Regions from separate parts of the Homo sapiens genome. Here region 2 is linked to region 1. The links come from fine-mapping of genetic effects on gene expression. A gene starts in region 1. The other region holds a variant in brackets. All regions are shown on one strand. Distances are between the middles of the regions.

Evidence for each region. PIP is the estimated chance that this variant, and not a neighbour inherited with it, causes the effect. A credible set is the group of variants that fine-mapping cannot tell apart.
Region 2: its variant is the best candidate, but not a certain one, in a credible set for the expression of WDR18 in skeletal muscle (GTEx, PIP 0.89).

The regions. Positions count from the first base shown.
Region 1 is chr19:982,453-985,324 of GRCh38, reverse strand. It overlaps WDR18 (WD repeat domain 18), which reads right to left and starts at 980. Exons shown (of 10, transcript NM_024100.4): 1 at 762-980. The coding sequence starts at 971. RefSeq lists enhancers at 661-840, 871-1,020, 445-1,386 and silencers at 1,071-1,160, 2,325-2,714.
Region 2 is chr19:1,144,725-1,147,621 of GRCh38, reverse strand. SBNO2 (strawberry notch homolog 2) reads left to right here. Exons shown (of 32, transcript NM_014963.3): 4 at 202-313. Among named protein-coding and RNA genes, the nearest start is that of SBNO2, 28 kb to the left of the region's middle. The variant A/G (reference allele first, on the strand shown) is at 1,466.

The sequences.
Region 1 (2,872 bases):
GGTGGTTGGTGCGGGCCTGTAGTTGCAGCTACTCAGGAGGCTGAGGCCCGAGAATCGCTTGAACCCTAGAGGCAGAGGCTGCAGTGAGCCGAGATCGCACCACTGCACTCCAGCCTCAGCGACAGAGTGAGACCCTGTCTCAAAACTAAAATAAAATGGGAGAAATTTATGAGTTGTGTGTAGACTCCATCAGGCAATGCTGGAGCACAGAGCCAGTCCCAAGAGATCTCAGCGGGCACACGGGGGAAGCGAGTAGCTTCAGGGACTGGCTGCATTTGGGCTTGGGAGTAGAGGGGAAACTGTGGGCGACGGTGAGTATCTGTTGCTTTATTGGAGGAATAAACATGAGTTTCCTGCGCCACCCCTTCATGGGAGACTCCCCCAGACCTTGGTCCTTCTCCCTTTTCCTCCAGAACCACAACATCCACAGAGCTCATAGGCCCCTTTTAATCAAATTTCGCGCTCCAAGAACTCGTGCATGCGCAATTGCCCCAAGGGACCCCCCGGAGCGTCTCCCATTTTCCCCCACTGCCCCCATAGCAGCTCAGGCCTGAGCCCCGCGCGTGCGCAGAGCGGCCTAACAGGTCGCACGTATCTCCCCAAAGCCCCCAGACCCGCGCATGCGCAGAGCGCCCGAACGGAGACCACCTCCCCTCCCCACGCCAATTCCGACTAAGGGTGCACGCGGCCCCCACCAACCCATCCCCCGACTTCAGCCTCGGGCGCCCCATGACCCCAGCAGCGAGACCGCACCGCCGCACCTTCCGCTGGAGCTCCCAGGCGCTGATGTAATTCTTGCCCAGCTGCGCCGCCAGCAGATACTCGCCATTGAGCAGCGCCAGGCCGCGGGGTCCCGCCTGGCCGCCGCGGTAGGTGAGCAGGTTGGCGCCCGAGTGAAGTTCCCACACGATGCAGCTCCACATCGGGGCCGCCGAGTCCGTACACACGGCCACCTCCATGGGCGCCGCCATCTTGCCTTCCCCACCGCCCCGGACGTGCGTCATCATGAGCGAGACGCGGACGACTGCCCCACGCGGGCCAGAGCGGCGGCCCCGCGGCCCCAGCGGGTGGCCGACCCGCGCATGCGCCCGTGCCTCGGAGAGAGGGGCTTTCTTGTGAAGTGGGATTTCCCGCTTACCTGAGACTCGAGGGTCGCGCGGCCTGCTTAGAGATCTGGGGAGGCGACTTCTTCCAAGGCCCAGGGTCTCCGGCGATCAGTTAGTAGCTCTAGAGCCGGGGTACCTGACTTGGCCTTTTCCTCCTGGGCATTTTTGGCCAAGTGACTCAAGCTCTTGGATTCATTTATTTTTAAATGTTCAAATAATAAAGTTCCGACGTCACAGGCCTAAATGACACATTGCGCCTAAAAGAGAGAGCGCACACCCAGCAACATGGCTAGTTGGCGATGAATACATTGGAATTCACTGCTTCCTTATTTATTTAGTTTTGTAGAGCCAGGGTCTCACTGTCCTGCCCAGGCTGGCCTCGAACTCCTGAGCTCAAGTGATCCTCCCAGCTCGGCCTGCCAAAGTGCTGGGATTACAGGCGTGAGCCACCGCGCCCGGCCCAGTGTTTCCTTATTGGTCGACATCTGCCTCCCCCTTGACCCCTCTTTAGGGGCCTCAACATCTAAATTATTAGTCGGATAGCTTGGTGTAGGTCAAACAAGTCGCCAGTTCTGTCCGAGCCAAGCAGGGTCTAACTTCATGTCACGGCTGCCCGTCACGGACCATGTCTGAAAACGGCATTCAAAAAAAAAAAAAGGCCGGGCGCTTTGGCTCAGGCCTGTAATCCCAGCACTTTGGGAGGCCGAGGTGGGTGGATTACCTGAGATCAGGAGTTCGAGACTACCCTGGCCAACATGGCGAAACCCCGTCTTTACAAAAAGTACAAAAAGCCGGGCGTGGTGGGAGGCTGAGGCAGGAGAATCGCTTGAACCCGGGAGGCGGAGGTCTCAGTGAGCCGAGATCCCAGGCACTCCAGCCTGGGCGAATGAGACTCTGTCTCAAAGAAAAACATATATCTATTATTTATTTATACTAAATATATATCTAGTAGAGATGGGGGGTCTCACTGTGTTGCTCAGGCTGGTCTCCAACACCTGGGCTTAGGCCTTGGCCTCTTAAACCGCTGGGATTACAGGCTTCAGCCACAACGTCCGGCCTAAAAACAGTATGATTTAAAATGTGCAATTAGTTGCCAACCCCTTAAAAAGGGATAAAAAGGGAGCATTCATTTAAAAGTCGGGATTTCCGCCCGGGGGTTGCAGCTGACCTGGGTCGTGTGCCCTCGAGCAGCAAGAGGCAGGGGCTGGAGGCTGCATGCGGGGTGCGGTCCCCGGAGGCGGTGCGACTCCTGGTCCGCGGCTCCCGGCGGAGGGCACGGCCGGGGCAGGAGGCTGGTGCCAGAGCGTGCGGCGCCGCAGCCCCGCTGGCCGCCAGGTGGCAGGCGCGAGCCACCGACCCCGAGCCCAGGCCAGAGGGAGGGCGGCCCCGGGGACCCGCCTGGTCGGCAGGAGGGGCCGTTTGAGCGGGGAGCCAGCGACCCCCAGAGAACCGTGTGCGGGGCAGGCCCGTGCGAAGGCCCTGGGGCAGGACCACGGAGCGGGGCCGGGCCGTGCAGGGCCGTGTGAACGAGGCCTGGATTTCATTTTATCCTGGGAGGGAGGGAGGGAGTCCAATCCAAGGACCTGCTGTGCCTCCAGAGTTTCCTCCAACCTCATTTTTATTTTCTTTCTTTATTTTGCGACAGTCTTGCTCTGTGGCCCAGGTTGGAGTGCAATGGTGCGATCTCGGCTCACTGCTACCTCTGCCTCCCGGGTTCAAGCGATTCTCCTGTCTCAGCCTCCCGAGTAGCTGGGATTACAGGTGTG
Region 2 (2,897 bases), 160 kb before region 1:
TGGGAGGGCAGCCCCAGGCTTGACCACCACCCCCCTGGAGGCCCCTCTGTATGTGCAGCGGGGCCATGGGTCCTGCCGGGCTGGGCACACTCCAGTGGGGCCTCGAGGGGCCTCTGGCTGCGGCCATGGGGGTGCAGGTGTGTTACTGAGGGAGTGGGTTGAGCACCCCATCTCACCTCCCCCCCCCCCATCTCCCTCCAGCCCGTTCATGAGCTCCGCCTCCTTCCTCGGCAGCCAGCCCTGCCCAGACACCAGCTATGCCCCCGTGGCCACCGCCTCCAGCTTGCCACCAAAGACCTGCGACTTTGCTCAGGTAGGAGCCCCAGGAGCTCACCGCGCCGTGGGGGGCAGGGTGGAGTCTGGGCCGCCCCTCCAGCTGCCCTGCGACCTCTCTCGCTCAGGCCTGCCTGGGACTCAGTGACCTCGGCTTGGCCCCTCGGCCGCAGGGTTTACGGTGGGGCAGTAGGAGCCCAGAGATGTGGCTTGGTTTTGGGGAAGAGCCAGTGACTGGCCCTTCGTGTCAGCAGTGAGCCCCGCCCAGCCCTTGGGGTCCCTGCGAGCATCTGGGCAATGCCACAGAGGGAGTTGCGGGGAGGGCGGTGCTGGGAGAGATGCCCTTGGCAGCCTTTGCCCCCACGGCCCTCCCTCTAGGCGGGTCCAGACACCCTGCACATTGGAGTCCCAACCCCTTAGCAGCCACCTGAAAACGGAACTCACATACCAAAGGAACAGAACTTTCCACCTCCTTCTCCCCAGGGTCGCGGGGAGGCTCCCAGCCTCCCACTGCGGCATCAGGCGGACCCCACCCCCACCCTCCCAGCCTCCCCCTTCGGCATCAGGCGGACCCCACCCCCACCCTCACAGCCTCCCACTGCGGCATCAGGCGGACCCCACCCCCACCCTCACAGCCTTCCCCAAGGGGTTCCCAGTGCCCCAGCTTCCTCTCGGCAGCTCTGGAGCACCCAGTGCCACAGAGATCGGCTTCCCTGGGACGGTTCGGATACCACAGCCTCCGTGTGGGACCCGGGGCCAGGGGCTGCTGCTGGGCCGGACCACATCCAGGGCCTGCCGGGGAGCGAGGGTCACCTGGTGCTCAGCTCCCCCAAGCCTCCGCTTCCCCTGTGTAATGGGCATGTGAGATCTGCCTGGGCCTCAGAGCTGTTGGGGGGATGGGCGCAAGCCGGCCAGATCCAGAGAGAAGCGGTCAGGTGTGGCTGCAGCAGAATGGAGCCAATTCAGGTCCCAGGGCTCACCCAGACCCAGGCCCTGCAAACAGCTCGCCGGGTGGACCCCGGGCCCAGTTTTCCCCACTCAGGGCCGTAGCAGAGCGGGGCAAAGCCAGCCGGACCCTGAGTCTGTGCTGGGGTGACCGCGTCCGTCAAGTCCGCCTCCCCAGTAGAGTCTGTGAGGGGACCTTCCTGGAAAGTAGGGTCTTTTTGGATGTCATTGGGTAGGGATCAAGATG[A/G]GATGAGGTAGCTCTGAAATCCAGCACAAGGGTCCTCAGAAGAGACAGGAGAGATTGGGAGCTGGCGCCACGCTGGAGGCCGGGGCTGGGGCGGTGTGGCCACAGGTCAGTTTCTCCTGGAGCCCCAGGGCTGGAAGAGGTGGGTCAGAGCTGTGGGAGGGAGCAAGGCCCTGAGACACCTTGGCCTCAGACTCCCGGGCCCTGGGACGGGAAGAGGGTGGATTCCTGTCCTGTAGCCCCCAGTGTGTGGCCTGGAAATTGGCCTACCAGCTGTGTTCAGGGGAGGGGGGCGCCCCTGCTCATCTTGGGGCTGAGGTCAGCGAGGTGCGCACAGGGGCTCTGTCCTCACCCGCAGTAGCCCTGGACCCCCATGTGATCTGGTCCTGGCCAAGGTGTGGCAAGCTGCTGCGCCATGCCAGCCGGACACAGAAGGAAACTGAGGCAGGGGAGGCGCCTGTCCAGAGCTGGCATCTGTGCCCCACCCTTCAGGGGACGCACAGGGGAGGAGCCCGGGGTGCGACTGATGGCAGTGGCTCCTTCCTCACCGCCACTGCCTTCCTACCAGCCCCAGCCCTGGGTCAGCCTGTCCTTGCCCCGCCCCCTTCTTCTCTTTCACCCCTTCTCTGCCTCTTTCTGTGTGTTCCTTCTCTCTTTCCTTTCTTTCTTTCTTTTTTTTTTTTTTTGAGACAGAGTTTTGCTCTTGTTGCTCAGGCTGGAGTGCAATGGCACGATCTTGGCTCACTGCAACCTCCGCTTCCCAGGTTCAAGCGATTTTCCTGCCTCAGCCTCCCGAGCAGCTGAGACCACAGGCATGCACCACCATGCCTGGCTAATTTTTTTTTTTTTTTTTTTGGTAGAGACAGGGTTTCTCCATGTTGGTCAGGCTGGTCTCAAACTCCTGACCTGTGGTGATCCGCCCGCCTCAGCCTCCCAAAGTGCTGGGATTACAGGCGTGAGCCACCGTGCCCGGCCTGTCTCTTTCTTTTCTCTGTCTCTCTCTCTCCCTCTTCCCCCTGCTCCTAGTCTCTCTCTCTGTCTCCCTCCCTCTCAATCTCTCTCTGCCTATCTCCCTCTCTGTCTCTGCCTCCCTCTCTGCCTCTGTCTTCCTCTCTGCCTCTGTCTCTCTCTCTGCCTCTGTCTCTGTCTCCCTCTATGCTCCATCTCTCTGTCTCCCTCTCAGTCTCTGTCTCTGTCTCCCTCTTTGTCTCTGTCTCCCTCTCTGTCTCTGTCTCTCTGTCTCTGTCTCCATCTCCGCCTCTGTCTCTCTGTCTCCCTCTCTGTCTCTGTCTGTGTCTCCCTCTCTGCTTGTCTCTGCCCCTGTCTCTCTGTCTCCCTCTCTGTCTCTGTCTCTCTGTCTCCCTCTCTGTCTCTGTCTCTTTGTCTCTGCCTCTGTCTCTCTGTCTCCCTCTCCACCTGTCTCTTTGTCTCCCTC